Linked DNA regions of Homo sapiens. The protein of the gene in region 4 purifies or fractionates together with the protein of the main gene of each other region. This does not show direct contact. Each region holds a gene or a part of one and is shown on either strand. Other genes may lie near its edges.

Region 1 (3,500 bases), on a different chromosome or scaffold from region 4:
TGCTAGCCCTTTGTGAGCCAATGGTAAATGGGTGCTAAATAAAACAACTAGGTCTTGAGATACATTAATTGTAAATGTCACAGAACCAGTACTTTCCTCAATGTGGCTAAGATAGTTGATGGTTCCTTTTTCTTCTGCACTGGTCAGACCATATCTGGGCTATGATGTTTGCTTCTGGGCCACACACTTTAGAGGGAAGACAAGCAGCATGTTGGAGTCTGTTTAGGCGAGAGATCCGGCAGGGGAAGGAGTCTTGGTGAATGAGGGGTGGAGGAGCTGCAGGATGGGAATAGAGGCCTGAACTGCTACCATGACATATTCAAAAGGCTGCCGTGTGAAGCCAAGTTATGCTTGTCTTTTGTGGTCCCAGTTGATCACATTAAGACCTCATGGGGCCATAGAAAAGCTAGAGGGAGACTGATTTGGGTTATTCATAAGAAGAACTTTAAGTCTGTTATCTGAGGGTAGAATGAGAGGCATGTTTTAGATTCTTTAGATTCTTTACTCTTCTGACAATCATGTGTTTTTGTAGCTGTTTCCTTGTGGTCATATTAATTCTGGTACCACTTCATGAACCTTTTATTACCCATCTTTGTTTTCTTTTTTTTTTTCCCTTCTTAACTCCCTGTTTAATTTGTGGTGAGGGTGAAAGAGGAGATAAAGAAAAAAAAGGGTCAACTTGTAACTTTGCCTTTTCTTTTCTTTTCTTTTCTTTTTTTTGCCCTCAGTAACTGAGGGCAAACCCATCAGACAACCAGAGCCATAATTTGTGGTCACCGCTGAAATTTACCTTGGAAACTCGGTTAGTATGGCTGTGAAGAGGTATACCCCAGCTCCTTAACACAGAGTTAATGCTTAATCTAAGGTTTTAAGTTTCTTAGAAAAGAAAAACGTGTACATTCTTTTGTTTCTTAAACATCTAATTTTGCCCTCCTCCTCTTCTCTTAGAGGCAATTGCTTTTGGATCGTTCCATTTACAATGGCGCAGAGAACTGGACTCGAGGATCCAGAGAGGTATCTCTTTGTGGACAGGGCTGTCATCTACAACCCTGCCACTCAAGCTGATTGGACAGCTAAAAAGCTAGTGTGGATTCCATCAGAACGCCATGGTTTTGAGGCAGCTAGTATCAAAGAAGAACGGGGAGATGAAGTTATGGTGGAGTTGGCAGAGAATGGAAAGAAAGCAATGGTCAACAAAGATGATATTCAGAAGATGAACCCACCTAAGTTTTCCAAGGTGGAGGATATGGCAGAATTGACATGCTTGAATGAAGCTTCCGTTTTACATAATCTGAAGGATCGCTACTATTCAGGACTAATCTATGTAAGTATTTCTTCCAAATAATCATGTGAAGTGGTAGCTAGGAATTAATGTAAATTATACATCTTGTCATAATCAAATGAGAATGTGGAATACCCAAACTCTCTGTTTAACATTTCTATTTCTCTTTAAGATAGAAAGATTTGTTGCTTGCTTACCCATGTCTTGCTTTTCTTTGAATCTTAACACATTAAGTTTAAATAATACAGGCTGCAATTACATATAATAAAATGGCATTTGAAGACTTTTGTAGTGGTCTTCTGGAGCATAATAAGGTGGGAGAGAGCATGTAACAGGAAGACCAGAAGGTTTAATAAGGTAAAGAGAGTTGCATTAATTGGACGCAGACAGCAAAACGGTCAAAAATCAAGTGCATACCCAAGAGTAAAGTGGAGGGGCTGTAAGCTGAGAAATTTCTGTGGACAGCATGAACAGCTTCACTGGATGTAGTAGGGAAGTAGGAAAGATGAATGCTGAGGTTTTTAAGAGGAAACAATTAGGGTAAGATTGAGGCTGGCTGGGGTCGTCCTGTGGTTAGCAGCTGACATGAATGTTGGAGTCACCGACTTTGTCACTGACCATGTAGAAGAAGTTATTGAAAATCATAAGGGATAATGTAGAGAGGGATAATGTAGAGAGGAAAAATGTAAGCCAGATACTAAAAGAAAAATCTAAAATGACAAAATAGGTTTGAGGGAATGGTAGACAGAGGTGGCAATGATTTGAAGAAGGTGGCACGTGTGGGACTTAAACTGACGATGAAGGGAAGTAGGAAGAAAAGTTGATGGTCGTGGTTTGAAATCGGAAAAGGGGTGTTGAATTTTACACAAGGAGTGTGCTACTGAAGGTCATGAATAATTCAAAACTTCAGTAAATCAGAGCTAGTTTTCCTACAGAATTAGTTTAAGGAATATTTATTAAGCACCCCCTGTGCTCTAGGTGCTGGGGATAGTACAGTGAAGAAGACAGGCCAGGTCTCTCTGCCTTTCTGAAATGTCCAATGAGGAAATGAAACAAGGCTATGGAGAGAGTAAGTAGGAGAATGGCTTTCTCCAGCGGGTCAGTTAAGGGCTGTTTGTGAAGGTAGCATTTGAGCTGGAGTCTGACTGGTGGGAGGCAGCTAGCCACGAGAAAAGCTGAGAAAAGAATGATTCATTCATGACCTTTGCCAGAGTAGTTTCAACCAAGCCTGATAGATCTCCCTTATTTTCTTCTCTATGAGGTAGGAGAGTAAGAGGCCACAGGGTTGGAACGGTGGCTTGAGGAGAATGGAAAGGCTTAGGAACAACCCTTTTCCAATTTCAGACTAAGCCAGGGATAAGAAAGCGACTGGAGAGTGGCGTTGAGAGTCCAGCTGAGATTGAATAACCACGTGTAGGGTGACCGCAATTTTGCCTGGCTATGTGATTTTGCCAGACCATGGGATTGTCTCAGGTCTGTGAGTGTGGGGGGCTTTGGATCTGCATGGCTTCCACAGTGAGAGGGGGATTCAGTGGCCGTCTTTGGAGTCCTCGTTCGGTAGGAATGGGAGTCTGGGTGGGAGGGGCTGATGGATCAAGGCCTGGAAGTTTTCAGAATGTTGAGGAACAGGGATCATGGGGTGAAGGAGTGAGAAAACTGCAAAATTAAGAGGTTATGGTCAGATTGTAATGTCGACATGTAAGATTTGAGAGGTTGATCAGTTTCAGATGAAGCCCATTGCAATAAATTGTGCAGGTATGGAAATGTGATGTCACCATCAAAAACTGTGCAGTGTGAAGAGGAGCCAGGCTGCTTTTCTGCCAGCCTTCACCTTAATTTCCCACACTGGCAGCTGGAGGTAGCTGCAAAGGGTGCTAAGTAGAAAAGGAATGAAAGAAAGGACAGGTGTTTTTTTGTTGTTTTTGTTTTTGTTTTGCAGCCATTCCACATAATTCAGAGATTTTACAGTTATCTCTTACTGAGTTTGTTGGATTTTTTTCCAACTTAACTCATGGACAACCTGAGTGAACTTCTGAGTTTCTTTTCAAAGCACAGCCTCCTTCTACAGGAGAATCTGAGTTTTTCTCAAAGTCTCAAGGTCACACAGAGGTCGGGGTTTGGGAGGATCATATCTTCAATTAGTTGGGTGGAGAAAGGGTTCTTACCTAAGGTTCTAGTTGGAGAACTTGACTCCAAAGAAGTCTGTGTCGTTAAGAGG
Region 2 (3,500 bases), on a different chromosome or scaffold from region 4:
GAGGGAGCAAATAGAGTTCTATATTTGATATACGACAGCTTTCTTGAGAGTTGTTGCATGTGATGACCTTGTTATTTAGGAAATGTTGTCAATGGAGATTATTTTCCTAGATAAGAGTAACAATTACAGCTCTAATATTTTCAATGGTAACTGACAATGTAATCAAAGAAATTCGGTTTCTGCTTCTATGAAACATGAAAAAATGCGAAATATCACCCTACTATATCTAAGTCTATGCAATCATCATGCATGACTTCATTCATTCAACAGTTAAAATTTGATCTTGTATTATTTGCAGGGTCTGTGCTTGCACTGGAGCTACAGAAGGAAACTCTTTGCCCTCTTAAGGAGTTTATCAATGTTGTCATCATGCAACTTTAATCTTCAATTTGTTTTAAATGTAAAGTTTTCGAAGAAAGTAGATTTATTTAGGTGACAAGAGTTATCTGGGTTTGAGTGGAAGCTCTGAATTCTGAAAATGGGAAGGGTGTATTAGCAGAAAAGGAAGGAGACCACGCGAATAAATGGTTATAGAAACCAGAACTCTTTCTTTGAAATAAAATATTGTTTGGCTGTAAACAAATCCTAGTGGGGAGTATTTGTGAGTGTCTGTGTGGATGAATGTGTATATTCGTGTGTGTATCTGTGGACGTGTACATCTGTATGTTCATGAATTTGTGGGGGGTGTTTCTGAGTGTGTGTGTATGTAGAAAGGAAGATATGGAAAAATGAATAGAAAAGGGGTATGAGAGAGGGCACCTTGTGAATGTTAATAAACAAACAAAAAAGTAGGAATTCAATTCTAATACATTGTGAGGCAAAAAGAGCACACATTGAAGTAATTCCTTTGAATGTGCTGAAAGCCAAATTCTTTATTAAAATAATGATCTTTTTTCATCTGGAGTTTGGGATAACACATGATCATGTGTATGCATTTCACCAATGAGGTGAGTCAACGTTTGCCTGTTTCTCTGAGCACCTGCATTTCTTAATTTCTCCTTATGAGTTTCAGTTTTCATCATCTAGGTGACTATAGTTCTGTTCTGTATCGTAGCTTCTCGGTGAGACATGTTCATGAAATATTTAGCAGACAGTTTCTTTTGAAACTTTATCCATTCTGATTTTCAATGTTATGCTTTGGAGTTGATACCTACTTTGGCGATTGGGTTCCTCTTTGAGTTGTCTTCACCTTCACGACAGGCTGCTGCGAACTTGATCCATTCACGTTTCTGCCTTCGGATTGAATGCCATTTGATGGTGCCATTTTTAGTGTTATAATCTCTTACCTTAAATGACAGCAATAAAGAAATGGTATATATTAATTTGAATTCGTAATTCAAATTCCACTGAGATTTTTGGAAGAGGTTATAATCTCAGAAATAGAGGATGTTTAATTGGGAAAATTGGTAATTTTGGTAATCTATTAATTTTAGCATTATATGAACTTGACTTATGAGAATACATTTTCTTCAGAAAACATATTGTTATTCTCAAATTATTTTCTTGTTTAAAAATTTGGAAAAATGGATTTGTTATATATTACCTGGATTCGGAATTCACTGTTAACTTCTACCACCACCTGTAAAAAATAAGATAATCACACTAGTTATTTTTTAATTAAATGCTTTAAAATTTATATTATCCAGTTACTTTAAAAACAACATGAAACCATAGGCTTGTGAGTCATTAAAATTATTTTATCAGCCAAATAGCAGGTGGATTTGGTTTATGTCTTGGGTCTGATGATGATGCTAAGAATTTTTGTTTTTACCTTTCAATTTACTCTTCTTTTTATTACTATTATTTTGTACTTGTATTTCTCCCTAAATAAGAAATTTTTAACTTTTAATTGAATTTATTCAGAATTGCAAAGTATGAAAACTTTATTTGTATAACTGATATAAGAAAATTATAGTTTACATTTAAAAATACTAACAGTAGTAATTTAAAAATATAAAAAAGTTCTTTTTATAGTTAATTTTAATTGTAGCATTAAAGAAAATATGAACTTAATGTCTCTAAGTATCTACTTTAAAAAAATTGCCACAATAGATAATTCAGAAAATAAGTATTTATGATCAATATGAGAAGTATAAAAAGATAATGTTTTTATTATGAGAATTACATATCCATTGTGTATCTAATATTAATAATTATGATTGTTATTACTCTTATAATTTGTTAAATAATAGCTAGGTATTAGGTTATGTATTTATGTAAATCTATGCACTTAATCTTTACAACAAATACATGTGGTCACCACTAATACTATCTCCATTTTACAGATGAGGAAATTGAGTCTTGGATATTAACCTATGGCTAAATATAATTCAATACAATTTAGCATAAATTTTCACTTGAGCTGTGGGTTTTACAATAAAATATGAGATAGCCTATTCCCTCAAGTAAATTACTACTAAGAAAAGCATGCTACAAAGAATTTATATTGCAACTTCAAGAACTCAAAAAATTCTGATTTTAAACTAACCTATTATCCTTGTGATTGGTGATATTTACATACGACAATAGGAATACAGCATGAAGAAAAAAAAAAGAAAAGTAAATGGCCCAAATTTTAAAACATGTAACTGAAATGTTATCTGTAGAGCCCATCTTGGGTGCAGAACTGAAATGATGAAATGGTGTTCATGTAAATGCATGCTCCTTGCTGCCTGTGAATTTATGAACACTTTTCCCTCTCTCTTGTTTGTGAGTGTGGGATGGGAGATGGGCATACCTTATTTGTGTGTTTGAAAGCCATTTCTTCATAGCTACAGAATTGTGCATGGATCTGTTATCTGTTATTGCGCTTCCCTTACTGCATTGGAGCGCCAGTGCTTGCTGTTTGTTTTGGAAAGCTATGCAGATGACTAAGAAATCTTTCCAGCTTTATGAAGCTGGGTCACTCTTTTTCCCATGAGAGACAATTTGGGCAGAAGACCAAGTAGCTTTCACCATACAGTCAGACTCTCAACTGGATTTGTAATCTAAAAACCGCCAAGTCTGCTTAAAAATGTGGTGGGTTGGTGTAAGCTTATTTTCTGTTGCTCAGAGTCTAGAATAAACTCTGATACAAAGTCACTCTTGGACTTTCAAAGGCAAAATAGTGAAATCTGACTCTTGATAGAGTTGGAAAATCTTCAACGTATTTCCCCAATTCTCTGAACTTTAGTTTTCTCACTTGTAAAATGACAAGAGTAGACTAAATTTTATACAGGTAACTTTCCAGCTGTAATATTAAATGCCTGTGTGCAGTAGGAAAATATTGAAGTATTTAGATGTGAGAAGAGCATGATAAAATTGTGGTTTTAAAGCTAACTCTGACAACAGTTGGTAGGACTAGTGGGAAGAGGCAGTGATTACAGACGGTGAGCAGTTGAGGGTCTCTGTATCAAAGCAGACTGGAGGTGAGAAGGAGGTACGCTGGAGCAGAGACAGAGGGAATGGATGGGGAAAGATCAAGGGATACTGCAGCATAGCATTGGCAGGGCTTGAGAACA
Region 3 (3,500 bases), on a different chromosome or scaffold from region 4:
TTGCTGAAAGGTCATCTCTTCAACGTAACCAAATAAAATCCTATACTAATTGCATTACTTACTTATTTAATTGTAGCAAGTACAGGAAGACACCTTTATTCCACCCAGTGTTCATGGCACTTGCTTATATGGGAAAAGTAACAGGGTGAAATACATAAAAAGCTAGATCTTTCAATTGGCCCTCCTGTGCAATTAGGAAAAATAGTTTCCATACTCTCTTCAAAAAGCAAATGGTCTGAAATAAAATTTAAAAAAAATCCTGAGCAATGATTAGAGAAACATATTACAGTCACCGCCCCCCACCGCTCCCCGCGCCTTGCTACCCCGGTGACCTTGGACCTACCTTCTTCAACTTTAGTTTCCTAACCCTACAGTGGAAATAATCATGGTTCATACTTCCAGGGATGATTAAAAGCATATAAAATGCTCAAGCACGGGGCATAGATCACATGTGCTTGGTAAGCGTAGGCTATTATAATTACTATTCCCATTTTATAGATTAAAAGGGTGAGGCCCATTTGCCCAAGGTAAATGCTGTAATGAACTAAGAATTTCAACCCAGGTCTCTGTGGTTTTGGTGTGGATTCTGAATAAGAGATATGTATATCTGAAACTCCCAGAGCCCCAGCGCCACCCAACCCCACTTCCGTAAGATGTTGGGTAACCACCCTTAGCTACCCACAGACAGAGCTAAGCCTCCACACTTACTGAAGAGAAACGCTTCTGGAAAAGTGTCATTTTAAAAACAGGTAGAACTCATTTATAAATAACCACCGCTTTGTAAATAAATCCTTTTGACAATTCTTAAAAAGTTCTCGAGACAACCTTAAAAAGTCAGTAATATTTCCTCACTAATCTGGACTATGCTTTTATGCTTGGTCAATTGCTTATGGCTGTGTCCCCTTATCCAAATCATTCCCAATTAATGAACAGATCTGATTTAAGTGCACTGCAGGATTCATGAGGCAGCAATGCTATGAAAACTCAAATACCTCTTAGATGTATATTGTAACTAGTATGAATTCCTCAAAAGTATATCCACTGCATTATACAACACCCTGCTTCACTCACTTAGAAAGACAGTATCACAGACCCAAAAATAAGACCAGTTGTCCTATTTTCTTACATGGAAGTGTTACATATTCCATGAACTATGCTTTCATTTTTTTCTTTTTTAGTTGCTAGAATTCAGCAGCCAACTGTGTCACTTTGCTACTCCCCAAAAATAGCTAAACTGAGTAGTTTAAAATCACATTTTGTTGTTTGGCCAGAAAAATATCATGCTGATTTCAGTCTGCAAAAAAAAAAAAGAAAAGATTAGAGGGTACGAGGTGTGCATCAGTGTTTGGTTCTCTCTCATATGCTCTGTAGCTCTGAATCCATGAACATATAGAGACAGGACATCAATGTGTTCAAGTGTCACACAAGTGTAAAATAAAAGCAAACACCCAACTACTGTTTGCTTCCCATCAGTGGAGCCAAATTGAATCCCAGTAATGAGTAACCTATTTCCCTCCATTACCACACTGTCCATAAAGCCTGAGAAGAGGAATTAACATCTGAGGGTGCAGGACTAGGCGACTCTTTCTACACAGGGATTTGGAAGACTTATGAGACACATTTTAAGCCCACAGAAAGCATTTTTCCCACTTTAAGCTGAGAAAGCAGAGACCTCCTTTGCAATGTGGGCAAGGTGATATCTCAGACTTCATGAGGACTTTCTCATTTATTTAAACCTCAAAATGTAACCTGTTAGTAATCTTACATAGAATGTCCCCATGCTGATCCCTACTCCTCCTCACCCTCAACAGCAAAGACAGATACAAAAACCCATCACGTATGTTTATACAATTTTTCAAAAAGTTGTCTATACATACAGTTGTCCTTTTCAGTTCCACCGTCCGCTTTCCATACACTCCTATCCAAATCTCTTAAGAACACTTAAAAACGGTGGCCAGGAGCAATGGCTCAGGCCTGTAATCCTAGCACTTTGGGAAGTTGAGGTAGGAGGATCACTTGAGGTCAGGAGTTTAAGACCAGCCTGGGCAACACAGGGAGAGACCCGGTCTCTATAAAAATAAACATATAAAACTTTTGATTTAAAAAAATGGTTATTGAGCACTTACTGTTTACCATGCACAGCACTAAGTCCTTATATACATTCTCATTCAAGCCTCACAAAGACTTTAGGAGTTAGGCTTCTATCACCACCCCATTTCACAGAGGAAGAAAAAAATAATGAGGCACAGAGAGGGTATGTAACTTTTCTAAGGTAGCACGGCTAGCAATGGCACAGGTAGGCTGGCTCCAGAGGCCATATTCTTACCTATTTTGCTATGTTCTGTATAACTCTCAATAGCCACCTAGTTTAGAAAACAAATAGAAAAGCATTAACAAGTTCCAGGCTCCTAAAAGATTTTTCTTCCTGCTACATGCTGACAAAATAGTATGGCAACTCTCATCAACTGGCTGACACATGAAGTTTTCATTCAATGTGTAAGTTACCTCCATCCCCACACCCACCACAAGTACAAGTGAAACACTACCCAATTCCGTTTGGGAGGCTTCCAAAACAGAAACCAGGCACATATAGAAACCTCATCAGCTGTCATTCCTCTTCCTATCCCTGGAAGCACTTAAAACGAATCTTTTTTTTTTTTTTTGAGACGGAGTCTTGCTCTGTCGCACAGGCTGCAGTGCAGTGGTGCAATCTCAACTCACTGCAACCTCTGCCTCCTGGGTTCAAGCAATTCTCCCGCCTCAGCCTCCCGAGTAGCTGGGACTACAGGTGTGCACCACCATGCCCAGCTAATTTTTGTATTTTTAGAAGAGACAGGGTTTCACTATATTGGCCAGGATGGTCTCAATCTCTTGACCTCATGTTCCGTCCGCCTGGGCCTCCCAAAATGCTGGAATTACAGGCATGAGCCACCATGCCAGGCCAAAAAAAAAATTTTTTTTACAGTTGTATTAAGGGCTGCAATCATAAAAACCTTAGGCCTGCATAGATCCAGCAAGCTATCTCACACAGAATATATTTTTCTGTCAAAACACCAAATATCTTGCCACAAATGATACCAGGTGAAATGGTCCCTCCAATTATAGTTGTCCCAATAGAAGGGGACAATCACTCAAGAAGCCCTCTAGCTACTTAAAGCAATCTTGCACAGCCATCACTTATACCTAACAATCCTTTTCATACTGAGTTAACCACAAATTTATCTGTTCTACATCTCAATCATCACAGACTTTCCTGACAGTGAAATTTACCTGTATTACTTTAAGACATCTTTTAAAGAGACATTAACAATCCCATGTTCTTAGAAATTTGCAACAGGCAAATTGTAGGGAAAAGCAAGGAGACGTAAATACAGGTTTCTGGAATATACTTATCCTTTTTATTGATTTTGTTGGTTACAACTCCACATAAACACAATACCAAAAATAAGTCAAAGCCAAGTCCGATAACTCTTTTTTACACAAGTATAGTTGATTTTTTA
Region 4 (3,500 bases):
GGTTTGCAGTAACAAAGGACACTGCTGTCACTCAGGAAATTCCAAAGGTTTCAGGAGCTCTGTTCCTGGAACTAGGGACAAAGATCAGATGTATTTTTTATACTCTATCCCCTGGGCCTGTGTTAATCAGAGGTTGGTGTCATGGCCACGGATAACTTCTCCATTACTCCATAGACAAAATGTAAAACACCACATGTCACTTCCCCCTTTCCCTGCTATCATACCCCCAAACTTACAGTATCCACACCCATCCTCCCTGCTTTCCTGCTGCTGCCATGAAAAAAATGGCTTTCTCCTGGTCTGTGGCCAGTGATAGTCTCAATCCTGCCTCCCACCCCTTCCTTAAGGGCCTCTCTGATTGCTTACGCTCCGCTCCCCCATCAGCATGCAGTAGGCTCCAACCCCTCCCATCTTACAAAGCAAAACCAAAAAAGCCTCTCCCTTGACCTCCACATCTCTTCCTGGCAAATAGTCTATCTCTCCCAAATTAAAAACAAATAAAATATGTAAAACTTGCAAATATTGTATATGTGTAAGTTAGAAGGAATAACAATAAAACAGAACATGCCCAGGCCAAGAAATAGAGCACAGCCCCCTCCCACATCTTGGCTGCCTCCCCCACCAGAGGCAGTCATTACCCTGCATTTTGTTTAGCAGTTCCAAATTTTCTTTGTAGTTTTACCATATATGTATGTATCCTTGCATATTCTAGCAGGGCATAGCAGATAATAAAGAGGTAAAATATAGTCTGGTATGTTTTTAAGCTTCATGTACATGGAAGTAGATGGTTTCTATTCTGTGGTTGGCCTTTTCTCCCTGCTACGTGGAGAGATTCATCCTTATTGGGCAGCTCTGCTTCCTTCTGGTTTTTTTTTTTTTTTTTTTTGAGACAGGGTCTCGTTCTGTCGCCCAGGCTGGAGTGCAGTGGCGTGATCTTGGCTCACTGCAGCCTTGACTTCTCAGGCTCAAGCAGTCCTCCCACCTCAGCTCCCCTAGTAGCTGGGAGTACGGGTGTGCTCAGTGAGTACGGGAGTACTATGTTTCTCAGGCTGGCCTTGAACTCCTGGGCTCAAGCAATTCTCCCCCCTGGGTCTCTTTCACCGCTCTGTGGTGGTCTCTTTCGTGAATACTCTGCCACTTGCCCGTTGTTAGGCATTTGCATTGTTTCCAGGTGCTTGTCACACTCACATTGTGCTGTGAACATTCCTGTGTTCGTCTCCCTTGTGTGCCTGAGAGAGGATTCTAGGGTGTGTATGCAGGAGTGGAATGGTTTGGTCAAAGGGTATGCCCAACTTTTCCAGGAGGGAGGTATCCATTTTCACCCCACCAGCCCTGCACGAGTGTTCTATTGTGTCATAACCTAACGTTTGATAATTTCACATTTTAATTTTTTTTTTTTTTGAGACAGAGTCTTGCTCTGTTGCCCAGGCTGGAGTGCAGTGGCACGATCTCGGCTCACTACAACCTCTGCCTCCCAGGTTCAAGCAATTCTTGTGCCTCAGCTTCCAGAGTAGCTGGAATCACAGGCGTGCGCGCACCACCATGCCTGGCTAATTTTTTTGTATTTTAGTAAAGACAGGGTTTCACCATGTTGGCCAGGCTGGTCTCAAACTCCTGGCCTCAAGTGATCTGCCTGCCTCGGCCTCCCAAACTGCTGGGATTACAGACATGAGCCACCATGCGTGGTCCACATTTTAATTTTTGGCATCAAACTTTTTTGGGGAAAAAATTCTCTTTACATGTATCCTCAAAATATGCACAACTATGATATATCAATAAAAGCAAACACACAAAAGAATAAAAATAGATTGAGAAACAAACAGAAAAAAATACCTAGAGAGATCTCTGCTTGCTGCCTCATCCCTCAGCCTTCTCAAGTGCAGTGGTACGATCTTGGCTTACTGCAACCTCCACCTCCAGGACTCAAGTGATCCTCCCACCTCAACCTCCCTAGTAGCTAGGATTACAGGCATGCACCAATATGCCCGGCTAATTTTTGTATTTTTTTAGAGGTGGGGTTTTGCCATGTTGTTCAGGCTGGTCTCGAACTCCTGAGCTCAAGTGATCCACCTGCCTCAGCCTCCCAAAGTGCTGGGATTGCAGGTGTCAGTCACCACACCTGGTCAGGCTGTGATTCTCAAGCATATTATAATCACCTGGAGAGCTTGTTAAAAGCAAAGATTTTGGCTGGGCGCAGTGGTTCAAGCCTGTAATCCCAGCACTTTGGGAGGCTGAGGTGGGCAGATCACCTGAGGTCAGTTCGAGACCAGCCTAGCCAACATGGAGAAACCCCGTCTCTACTAAAAATACAAAAATTAGCCGGACGTGGTGGCGGGCACCTGTAATCCCAGCTATCCGGGAGGCTGAGGCAGGAGAATCACTTGAACCCGGGAGGCAGAGGCTTGCAGTGAGCCAAGATCACGCCACTGCACTCCAGCCTGGGCCACAGAACGAGACTCTGTCTCAAAAAAAAAAAAAAAAAAAAAAAAGCCCAGGGAGTTCAGTTCAACAGGAGAACTTTGTTTTTCACAAATCCCCCAGGAAATTCTGATGCAGGCGGCCTGAGTCCCACTCTTCCTTTTTTTCCCCAGTGTCTTTATGCTGAGGGCCTGACCCCTGGTCTCTTTTCAGGTGAAAGTAGTTACTCCTTGATCTCAATTTCCATCTAGCTGTGCCCTTCTGGATCTCTGCAGCCTGTGGGCTCCCCTGCCTTCCCCATGGGCAGCTGCTACTAGGCATATCCACTTAGATGCCCTCCAAGTTCTCTAACCCAACATATCCAAAATGGAGCTCACCCCATTCCCTGAATCAGCCCACTCTCTCCAGAGGGCTCTTAGGCCATCAGGCCCTTTGGGTCTGCCTCAAGGCTCTCAGCATAAAGTGCGTGATTGGCCATGGGCTGCACCTCCTTGCCCTAACCCCAGCCACGTACAATGCATGCTTTATGCTCTCACATGCCCCCTTGCTGCTGTTCCCTCGTTCTGAAACCCTGTCCCAGACTTGCTGACTCCAACCTGTCCTGCGGGTCGCCACGGCTTTTGAGGGGTGGGGGAAGGGAAGGGCAGGTACTGATGGGAATGCTCACTTCCACTCCAGGACTCTTGCTTACTTCTTACATGGCTCATAAAGGTGCAGCTCGTGAGGTTACCTGTCTTTGGTAATGCCTCTAGGTCCAAGCATCTTACTTTTTTTTTTTTTTTTTGAGACGGAGTTTCGCTCTTGTTGCCAAGGCTGGAGTGCAATGGCGCGATCTCAGCTCACCGCAACCTCCGCCTCCCGGGTTCAAGTGATTCTCCTGCCTCAGCCTCCCGAGTAGCTGGGATTACAGGCATGTGCCACCACGTTCCGCTGATTTTTTGTTTTTGTAGTGGAGATGGGGTTTCTCCATGTTGGTCAGGCTGATCCTGAACTCCCAAGCTCAGGTGATCTGCCCACCTTGGCCTCCCAAAGTGCTGGGATTAAAGGCGTGAGCCACTGCGTCCTGCCCGCATCTTGCATCC
Region 5 (3,500 bases), on a different chromosome or scaffold from region 4:
GGCACACAGCTGTGCCCATGTCCCCAGACTTGAGAGGTGTGGAAAAAGCACAGAACATTCTAGCAGGAGTGGGAACAGATCTCTCTGGCAGATGAGCGACTTGTGTTTCCAGGAAGGATTACTCACACCCCAAAAGATGGATGAGGTGACTGATGCTCCCTACACTTTCTGGCAGCGGAGGGCGTAGAATAAGCAGCCTGGAAGACCCATCAGTGCCACATAACTGAGGCAAAGCTACACCTCCTGGCTCCTGCTGGGGACTGTTTAGAAAGTTCTGTGCTCCTCTTAGGATAACCACTTAATAAAGACTGAAGCAGGGCTTTTCGTGTGTCAGGGCAAATGTTGCTTCTGGGACTCAGGTGTGAGGCCACAGGGACTTGGAAGTAACTATTGGGACCTGGGCCCAGGTGGCAGACAGCCACCCTGTCCTTTGACCTTGCTTGATGACTCGTCTTGAAGTTCCTGTGCTTTCAAATGCACGGTGCAATTCCTGCTGCCAGAACCCCTCTAACTCAAAAACGGAGAGGCAGCATGCATGTGTGTCATTTTTCCGGGCATGGTAGAGAAATCTCAGACCATGCAAAAGGAACAGAACTTTGGAGCTGGTGCATGGTGCTATAAGAAGCTCCCTCTTCCTGGATGTGTGCGAGCAGAGCCGGGTGGTCTCTGGGCGGGGCAGGGATGTTGAGGGGTGCAATTGCATGTTGGGGTGGGGAGGGGAGGTGGATGCCAGGCCCTTTAAGCTTCCTTTCAAAACTGGGACCTAGATGATTTGGAGTAGGGGGATGGCCTTGCTTTGCTATTTGTTGCTGACATTTAGAAGTGGTATCTAAGCCAGACTTGAGTCATCACTCTACAGGTTGTGTGGACAGGGGGCTCAGAGAGGCCTCCCCTGAGGCCTCTCGTGGACCCCGCTGGGCTGTCTGCCCGCTCCTCCATCTGGGATCTCCACCTGTGTTTGCAGAGGTGCTGCCATTGCTGTCTGCTGGGGAGGGCGGCCCAGGCCCAGGGCCAGAGCTGCGAGTACAGCCTCATGGTTGGCTACCAGTGTGGACAGGTCTTCCAGGCATGCTGTGTCAAGAGCCAGGAGACCGGAGATTTGGATGTCGGGGGCCTCCAAGAAACGGGTAACTTTCCCCCTTCCTTCCCTAATGAGCAGTGTATTAAGGTTCTCCGGGATGTGTATATAGAGCGAGAGTGGAGAGAGAGAGATTTTAAGGACTTGGCTCATGTGATCGTGGGGCTGGCAAGTCCAAAATCTGCAGGGCAGGCCTTCAGGCTGGAGCCCCAGGGAAGGAGGGGCATTGCAGCTGGAGTTCAAAGGCAGTGTGCTGGCAGAACGCCGCCTTTCCCGGGGAGGCCAGTCTTTTTTCTCTGAAGGCCTTCTGCTGATTGAGTGAGGCCCACCCATGGTATGAAGATGATCTGCTTTTCTCAGCATCAACAGACTTACATGTTAATCTCTTTTTTTTTTTGAGACAGAATCTCTCTCTGTCACCCAGGCTGGAGTGCAGTGCAGTGGTGTGATCTTGGCTCACGGCAACCTCCGCCTCCCGGGTTCAAGTGATTCTTGTGCCTCAGCCTCCCGAGTAGCTGGGATTACAGGTGTACACTACCACACCTGGCTAATTTTTGTATTTTTAGTAGGGATGGGGTTTCACCATGTTGGCCAGGCTGATCTGGAACTCCTGACCTCAGGTAATCCACCTGCCTCAGCTTCCCAAAGTGCTAGGATTACAGGTGTGAGCCATCGTGCCTGGCCAATATTAATCTCTAAAATATAGCTTCACAGCAACATCCAGGCTAGTGTTTGACTAAATATTTGAGTACCATACCCCAGCCCAATTGACACTTACGATGAACCATTACAGGTAACACGTGCATCCGTGTCACCATTGCCTTAACTCAGCACGGACTAACTCCGGTTGTCGGAGCCATTCATGTTTGTGACCTTATCTGAAAGCCGCTGTCCTGGAGTGACGCTGAGTGCTTGGAGTCTGGGATCGGACAAATCTGTGCTCCCATCCGGGTCCTAATGTGTACCTTGGTCCCCTCATCTGGGAAGTGGGGATAGTTGCAGTCCTACTTCATCAGGTGCTGGGAGGATGGAGTGCGAGATTGGGTGTCAAGGGTTGGGTAGAGCACCTGGCCCCATAAATGTCTGCCCTCACCATCTGCCCTTGTCCCTTCAGCTGCCCGGGGCAGCATGGGTGGCTGGCCTTGCTCCCACTTCTTGGGTGAGGGTCTGATGCTGAAGATCGCACAGCCGACACGTGGAGGAGGGAGAGCCTGGCCTTCCACCTCCTGGCCAGTGCCCTCTCCATCTGGAGCTGACGATGTATGGGCGAGCAGCTGGGGGCCATCGCTGGCTAATAGCTGGCTATGCTCTGTCAAATCATAGACACTTACTCAGCAAAGGGGCATGTGACCCCAAGAGCAGCTTCAAGAGCGCTCTCAGCTGTGTGCCCCCCCGTTCTGTGTCCTCGCCCTGCATTTCTGTGTGGTTCAGTTACAGGGTTCAGGAGACTTTGTGGCTGTCCAGTAGCCTCTTACACTTAGGCCACGGTTTCTTGTGCTGTAACAGAATTAACCTGGAAGAAGGCAGGACTCCGCCTGGGCCAAGCTTGCTGTGTAGTTTTCGGCCTGTTCCCTCCTCTCTCTGAGCTTTGCCCCCACTCTCTTAAAAAATAAAAGAGGTGTGAGCTGGGCACGGTGGCTCACGCCTGTAATCCCAGCACTTTGGGAGGCCGAGGCAGGCGGATCACCTGAGGTCAGGAGTTCGAGACTAGCCTGGCCAACATGGGGAAACCCTGTCTCTACTAAAAATACAAAAATTAGCTGGGCGTGGTGGCGGGCGCCTGTAATCCCAGCTACTTGGGAGGCTGAGGCAGGGAGAATCGCTTGAACCTGGGAGGCGGAGGTTGCAGTGAGCCGAGATGGCGCCATTGCATTCCAGCCTGGGTGACAGAACGAGACTCAGTCTCAAAAAAAATAATAAAATAAATAAAGAGGTGGGGAGGTGCCGGAAGGGGCGAAAGGGAAGAACCCTCAGACCTGTAGTCTCTAAGTCAAGGTAATGGCTGTAGGGTCCTGGGTGACACGGAACCTTTCACTTCTTGTTCTTAGGTTTTCAAGTCCAGGCTGTAGGGCCCCTGGTCACAGAGGACCCGGGTCACCCGGGACTCATCTTTCACTTATTGTTCTTAGTTTTTCAAGTCCAGGGCCCCATGGATGCCACTGAGATGATTTCAGATGTTACAGTCATCAAGAGGGATTGGGGCCGCATTCTGCCTCATTCCTTGGCTTTTGAAATCAGAGACGACATTTTCACTTTAAACAAACCCAAACCATTCCTGCTGGTGGAGGATTTCTCCTGCATCTCGGGGGTGGATTTTCACTGATTTATGTCTGCAGCGTGAGCAGTCTCTGGGCTTTTCTGCAGCTCCAGATGTTAGATGTTTTATCTCTCCGTCTTTTATCTGCTTCAGTCCTTGCCCCAG
Region 6 (3,500 bases), on a different chromosome or scaffold from region 4:
TACAAAGTGAGAGACTTGAGTAAAAGCTGGAAAATTTACAACTCTGGAGAGAAGCACAACTGGGGAGACAGAAGCCTTTATAAGCCTTCTCTTATTCACAGTTGGTGTCTACACACAACAGGGTCCCACTGACCAGTACCGCTGCCTGCCTTAAAAAGCAGAAAGCTCACACTCACTCAAGTGCTCCAACTACTGAGTTTTCATCCTAGGAATACTCACAGCAACAATCTCTTGTTTCCTGGGATCAATGACTCTCACTTTCTTGTCTTTGGAAGCTGTGCAGATCAGACTGCCATTCCGGTTCCAGCTCACATTGTAAATCATGTCTGAATGCATATCGTCCAAGTTTATAAGGGCTTCCCCTGTTCCCACATTCCAGATGATAATGGCATTATCACAGCCTAAAACAGGCAAAACCATCAGAGATTAGAAGATTAGAAACACCTATGTAACACACTCAGAAAACTACAGATACAGTGAGAATACACATATGTATATGCAGAGAGAGAGAGAGAGAAAGAGAGAGAGAGAAAAGATGCGGCTGATTGTCAGAGGCCCTACCAGAGGCCCTACTTACTAACAGCGTTAAAAACTGAAGTGACAAAGGAAAAAGTTTGTATAAAAGAAATAAAAGTGTTAAAGTAAAAACACAACTTGTTAAGTTTGGGTTCATATGAAACAATCAACCAAACAAAAACAAAGAACCACACCAAAACAGAACCCTATTTTCTTTAAAGAGTTAACTGGGCTGGTAGACCCAAGTGACTTCAAGTTTCCCTTTCTAGTAAAACAAGCATCAGGGTGTTGCTGCCAGCTTTGGGAGACCCCTATTAGGCAAATACGCTCCTTCCTTTTAAAGAAAACTTTGATTTTCCCCTGCTATACAATTAGTACATGTATACTATAGAGAACATATATAAACAAAAGGAAAAAAAATCACTTTTAATCCCACCACTCAGAGAGAAGATCATTATTACTTTTTTGATGTTTCTTTCCGAAAGATATTTCTGTGCACATACATAAATTATTTTACATACAGAGATGGGTTCATACACTTTACACATGGGCTGCTTTCTGCACTTGGTGGTAGGCTGTGACCCTTTTCACGTGCCAAATAAACTAAAAGTAAAAGGTTTAAATGACTGTTTAGGGCACTCAACAAAAACTCTGGGTGGCAGGTTATTCAAATCAGTGAGACTCTAAGACACAGCTTTGGGATATTAAAGATGGTACAACAGTGGAAGGGAAAAGCCAAGAGTAAGGCCTGTTTGCTCACAACAGATCTGTACCTTTAAATGAAGAGAAAAATAGGCCAAGACTGCTCTGATCATGGTGAGAAGCCCAAACTGTAATCAAGTAGCTACATAGATTCAGAAACGGATTCTGAAAGAAGCCCACAATGTCAACTCATTCACCATCTCAGCTCACCAACTCCTTCCTTCCTTCAAGGGTCTGCCCCACGCCTCCAGGCCCCTTTAAAAAGAGGCAGCATGTGTTGCTCCTAGGATGTTAGTTCAAGGATGAAGCAAAATACGGGAAGGACATCCTAGAGGTGGATTCTTGCCAACAAAGCAATTTGGAAATCATTTAGAAAAAATAGTCACTAACATCCAGGATACTTAAGTTACCTAAGGGTTAGAAGTAGGAAACTGGCCGGGCACGGTGGCTCACGCCTGTAATCCCAGCACCCTGGGAGGCCGAGGCGGGCAGATCACCTGAGGTCAGGAGTTGGAGACCAGCCTGACCAACATGGAGAAACCCTGTCTCTACTAAAAATACAACATTAGCCAGGTGTGGTGGCACATGCCTGTAGTCCCAGCTACTTGGGAGGCTGAGGCAGGAGAATCGCTTGAACTCAGGAGGCGGAGGTTGCGGTGAGCTGAGATCATGCCATTGCACTCCAGCCTGAGCAACAAGAGCGAAACTCCATCTCAAAAAAAAAAAAAAAAAAAAAAGAAGTAGGAAACTGGAGAAAAAAACTACACAACAGTAACAAAAGTTGAAGCTAAACTCTGGGATGGACAATTGAACCTTCCTCTGCCTTCTTCCCTATAGGCAAACAGGTAACTTCAGCCCCGGCAGCTGGATCATATAGCCTAAAAATATGCAGAACACGACAATCACCCATTCTCCTTCACATGTAAAAGGGAGAATGCAGACCAGTCTGTTGCTGCTGCCCTGTATTGAGCCTTGATGAGAAAGGTAGCAGGGAATTTTCCATGAAGGAATTCCAGCTCTGGAATTTTTTTCCTCTCCTTAATCAGACTGAGGTTCTGAGAGAACATCAAAAATGATTCCCAAGTATAGTCGATGGTGATTATAAAAAACATGGCATCTTTTTTGAAAAGTGGGCCTTAGTTTCAATAGTTACTTGGCATTATAATTTTTTATTTAACTCACTATGAGTCATAAACATTGTGTATTCCCAGTTAAAAACTGAACTGCCCCTCCTCCTTTTTACTGGTGAGGGGAAAGACCTTTAAAAATCCTATCTCTAACATTAGTATCACTTTTTAAATAAACCACTTTTATTAAGGTATAACTTACATACAATACAATGCACCCATTTTAAGTATATATTTGCTAAGTTTCAACAAATGTATAAACTCATGTAGCCACTACTATGATCAAGATACAGAATATTTCCATCACCCCACAAAGTTCCCTCATGCTCTCTGTATTGCTTTCATAAAAGAAAATGAAATCTCCAATTTTAGATAAAGGAAAAGATTTCTGTACAACACCAGTGTCCAGAAATAGGGGACTTATCAAGTAAAATGAGGTATATCCAGAAAATGGATTAGTATGAAGTCATTAAAAATAGGAAGAGAGCTTAATGGCACGTGAAAAGGGTCACAGCCTACCACCAAGTGCAGAAAGCAGCCCATGTGTAAAGTGTATGAACCCATCTCTGTATGTAAAATAATTTATGTATGTGCACAGAAATATCTTTCGGAAAGAAACATCAAAAAAGTAATAATGATCTTCTCTCTGAGTGGTGGGATTAAAAGTGATTTTTTTTTCCTTTTGTTTATATATGTTCTCTACAGTATACATGTACTAATTGTATAGCAGGGGAAAATCAAAGTTTTCTTTAAAAGGAAGGAGTGTATTTGCCTAATAGGGGTCTCCCAAAGCTGGCAGCAACACCACAGAGGGAACACAGGGCTTCTGGCTCCCAACAAAGTACACCTTCTACCATATCAGAAATAACCAAAACTATGGTTCATGGAGGGCCCTGGCAGGAACCATGAAACCTGCTGAAATTATAGCAGGAAATTCATAGCTTTCCTCAGGTTGTCGAAATGGCCTTGAAACACACACACGTGCACACACACACAAGTATGTATGTGGGCTGGGGGAGCAGTGCACCCCAATACTCTTCACCATGGTTTCCTAATAATCTGCTTTAAAACCATATAGCACACAACCAAAACACATTTGCTTCCCCCCACTCAGAGAGCCACAAGAGTGGAAGACAAGGGGAGGACCGCTGAGCT
Region 7 (2,800 bases), on a different chromosome or scaffold from region 4:
CAGTTGCACCCCGCACCCCTGATTTCATCTAGACTGTGCCTGTATCTGGGAGGTTTTACGGAGACTAGTGGGAACGATGGGGGATCAATGCAGCCATGCTGGAGTGGGACTTCTCTGACCTACCCACCACCCATATGTGGGAGGACCTCTGGGAAACCAGTGACGTCCCAGGCAGAAAGCCAGCCAGTTCTTGGCACAAGAGTGCCCAGAAACGTAAAGATGGATAAATTCATTATTTCAGCAAACCTGCATTGAATCTGAAAAGTCTGGGAATAAAACTCGGGAAAGAGCAAATGCATCCTCAAAGCACTCTAGGGTCCAGCGTTTTTCCAGCTGGACTTCGCGGTGGCTCCACTTTCCCTCCTCCATCCCCTCCTCCCGCCCCTGCCTTTTCCTACCCTATCCAGCTGCAGAGAGGTTCTAGCCATGTGTGTCCCAGCTGCTGTCCACGCCCATGCCTGGCACGTTTGCTGAGGGAAAAAACTCAGGCACACACAGGCTGCCGCCCACTCAGACTTTATTCAAAGACCACGGGGGTACGGGTGCAGGAAGGGGAGGAGGGGCTGGGGGGAGGCCCAAGGGGCAAGAAGCATGGCCACCGAGGCTCCAGCTTAACGGTATTTGGAGGTCAGCACGGTGCTCACAGAAGCCAGGAACTTGTCCAGGGAGGCGTGCACCGCAGGGGTGAACTCGGCGGGGAGGTGGGCGGCCAGGGTCACCAGCAGGCAGTGGCTTAGGAGCTGTGCAGAGAAGAGGGTCAGTGGGGCCGAGGGCCCAGGCCCGCAGCCGCCGCCTGCGCTACACCTCCCGCAACCCGCGTGATCCTCTGCCCTGCGAGGAAGGCGCCATCTCGCCCCTCGACCCAGATCGCTCCCGGCCCGCCGCTCACCTTGAAGTTGACCGGGTCCACCCGAAGCTTGTGCGCGTGCAGGTCGCTCAGGGCGGACAGCGCGTTGGGCATGTCGTCCACGTGCGCCACGGCGTTGGTCAGCGCGTCGGCCACCTTCTTGCCGTGGCCCTTAACCTGGGCAGAGCCGTGGCTCAGGTCGAAGTGCGGGAAGTAGGTCTTGGTGGTGGGGAAGGACAGGAACATCCTGCGGGGAGAAGCAGAGTGAGGGGTGGGGTTTGGGTCCGGGGCCAGGACGGTTGAGGGTGGCCTGTGGGTCCGGGCGGGCGAGGAGCCCGGGTCGGAGCAGGGGAGGGAGCCTCACCTCTCCAGGGCCTCCGCACCATACTCGCCAGCGTGCGCGCCGACCTTACCCCAGGCGGCCTTGACGTTGGTCTTGTCGGCAGGAGACAGCACCATGGTGGGTTCTCTCTGAGTCTGTGGGGACCAGAAGAGTGCCGGGCCGCGAGCGCGCCAGGGTTTATGCTTGGGGCGCGGGGGCACGCCCGGCCGGGCGGCGCTCATTGGCTGGCGCGGAGCCCGGGGCGCGGCCTGGACCGCAGGGGAGTCCCGGGCGGGGCCTGCGCGGGGCCGGGCGGCGGGCTCGGCCTCCCCTGGGGGTGCACGCGGGGCGGGGGCCAGGACGTCTCCACCCTCCACCCGCCACTCCACTCCCGCCCATCCCGCTCGCCCGGGGGCAGGGCGGTAGCGGCGCTGGCGGGGCCGGCCCGTTGGGGTCGGGCGCTGTCGGCTCGTGCACCCCGGAGCGCAGCGCCACCCTTTCCTTTCGGGCGCCGGAGCGTCCCTAGCGAGGGAGAAAGTCAGCCCGCACCCCCGCCCCGGCCTGGCACGCGCTGGACGCGCATCGACTCCAGCGGGATCGGGGAACACACGGGCGAGCGAGTGCGAGCCGGGAGGCTTCGCCCAATCCTGGGGCGGAGAGGAATGCGCGCACCCGGACGCCCTGGCCCATAGGAACTCAAAAGAATTTCTGCGCAGAGCCCCTCCTGCTCTCCAGCCTCGCTTCCTGCAGCTCCCTTTCCCTCTGGCGATAGTCACTAGTGTGCTTGAGTGACAGGCACCGGGAAGGAATAAACACCAGGACGCAAAAAGCACGGGGCTGGGCTGGGGGCGGCTCCAGATTCAGACTCCTCTACCCGGGGTTGTGGGGTGGCGCGTGGGGTGGTGGGTGCTGGCTAAGCCCCAAGTCATGGACTCACAGTTTGTGTGACTGACTCTCCCACTGGCCTAGAGGTCGTGGTTCACTGTGACACCCCCAGCTCTCCAAATGCTATCTGATGGAAGACTTGCTAGGTAAATACTGGTTAAACAGGTAAACAAAGCAATAGCTGGAACCGGCTGGAGCATTCAACCTCCTCTGGGAGGTAGGCAGTCCTCTAACCATCACACAAGTACACACAGAGGTGCAGACCTCATCACAGGCCCTGAGGAAGTCTGGAGGTGTGGACGAGGCATTCAAGGTGACCAGGGTTAGTCTGAGGGCTTCCTGGAGGAGGTGAGACTTAAGGATATGTATTAGGTGGAGGAGGTGGAGGAGGGAGGAGGCTTGGCTCGGGGAGGGGAAAGGACAGAGGAGACAAGGGCCCTGTGGTTGGAGAATGGAGGTGGGGAGATGTTGGGGTGATGAGGCTGGCCAGCTCCTGCAGGGTGAGGAAGGAAGGGGTGGACTTCTGGGGAAGGGTGGGAGGTGCAGGAGTGCCAGTGGGTGCATCCCTGTGCATGAAAAGTGATGTTTTTTGGGGGGATGGTACTGAGGAGAAAACAGCCTGAGAAATCACTGATAAGTCATTTCCTGGGGGTCTGGCAGAAGATCTTGCTTTGAGGAGTGCATCAGGTCAGCACCCTTCAGCCTGCTCCCTGCCCTGTCTCCCCAGGCCCTTACTCAGGCCCTGC

The links.
Region 1: the proteins of ARMC12 (region 4) and MYH10 purify together in Homo sapiens (affinity purification with mass spectrometry, with the first as the bait; one large-scale study listed by BioGRID). This does not show direct contact.
Region 2: the proteins of ARMC12 (region 4) and DSG1 purify together in Homo sapiens (affinity purification with mass spectrometry, with the first as the bait; one large-scale study listed by BioGRID). This does not show direct contact.
Region 3: the proteins of ARMC12 (region 4) and PTPRG purify together in Homo sapiens (affinity purification with mass spectrometry; one large-scale study listed by BioGRID and IntAct). This does not show direct contact.
Region 5: the proteins of ARMC12 (region 4) and FBLN1 purify together in Homo sapiens (affinity purification with mass spectrometry, with the first as the bait; one large-scale study listed by BioGRID). This does not show direct contact.
Region 6: the proteins of ARMC12 (region 4) and CORO1C purify together in Homo sapiens (affinity purification with mass spectrometry, with the first as the bait; one large-scale study listed by BioGRID). This does not show direct contact.
Region 7: the proteins of ARMC12 (region 4) and HBA1 purify together in Homo sapiens (affinity purification with mass spectrometry, with the first as the bait; one large-scale study listed by BioGRID). This does not show direct contact.

What each region holds. Positions count from the first base shown.
Region 1 is NC_000017.11:8,620,726-8,624,225, reverse strand, and holds part of MYH10 (myosin-10), read left to right. Parts: intron 1-948; 5' UTR 949-979; coding exon 980-1,324; intron 1,325-3,500. UniProt on the Homo sapiens protein: Cellular myosin that appears to play a role in cytokinesis, cell shape, and specialized functions such as secretion and capping. Involved with LARP6 in the stabilization of type I collagen mRNAs for CO1A1 and CO1A2.
Region 2 is NC_000018.10:31,324,660-31,328,159, reverse strand, and holds part of DSG1 (desmoglein-1 preproprotein), read right to left. Parts: intron 1,580-3,500; coding exon 1,544-1,579; intron 1,287-1,543; coding exon 1,155-1,286; intron 1-1,154. UniProt on the Homo sapiens protein: Component of intercellular desmosome junctions. Involved in the interaction of plaque proteins and intermediate filaments mediating cell-cell adhesion.
Region 3 is NC_000003.12:61,568,071-61,571,570, reverse strand, and holds part of PTPRG (receptor-type tyrosine-protein phosphatase gamma isoform 1 precursor), read right to left. Parts: intron 1-3,500.
Region 4 is NC_000006.12:35,740,032-35,743,531, forward strand, and holds part of ARMC12 (armadillo repeat-containing protein 12), read left to right. Parts: intron 1-3,500. UniProt on the Homo sapiens protein: Essential for male fertility and sperm mitochondrial sheath formation. Required for proper mitochondrial elongation and coiling along the flagellum during the formation of the mitochondrial sheath.
Region 5 is NC_000022.11:45,526,883-45,530,382, forward strand, and holds part of FBLN1 (fibulin-1 isoform D precursor), read left to right. Parts: intron 1-964; coding exon 965-1,127; intron 1,128-3,500. UniProt on the Homo sapiens protein: Incorporated into fibronectin-containing matrix fibers. May play a role in cell adhesion and migration along protein fibers within the extracellular matrix (ECM).
Region 6 is NC_000012.12:108,658,519-108,662,018, forward strand, and holds part of CORO1C (coronin-1C), read right to left. Parts: intron 402-3,500; coding exon 220-401; intron 1-219. UniProt on the Homo sapiens protein: Plays a role in directed cell migration by regulating the activation and subcellular location of RAC1. Increases the presence of activated RAC1 at the leading edge of migrating cells.
Region 7 is NC_000016.10:175,223-178,022, reverse strand, and holds HBA1 (hemoglobin subunit alpha), read right to left. Parts: upstream 1,344-2,800; 5' UTR 1,307-1,343; coding exon 1,212-1,306; intron 1,095-1,211; coding exon 890-1,094; intron 741-889; coding exon 612-740; 3' UTR 501-611; downstream 1-500. UniProt on the Homo sapiens protein: Involved in oxygen transport from the lung to the various peripheral tissues.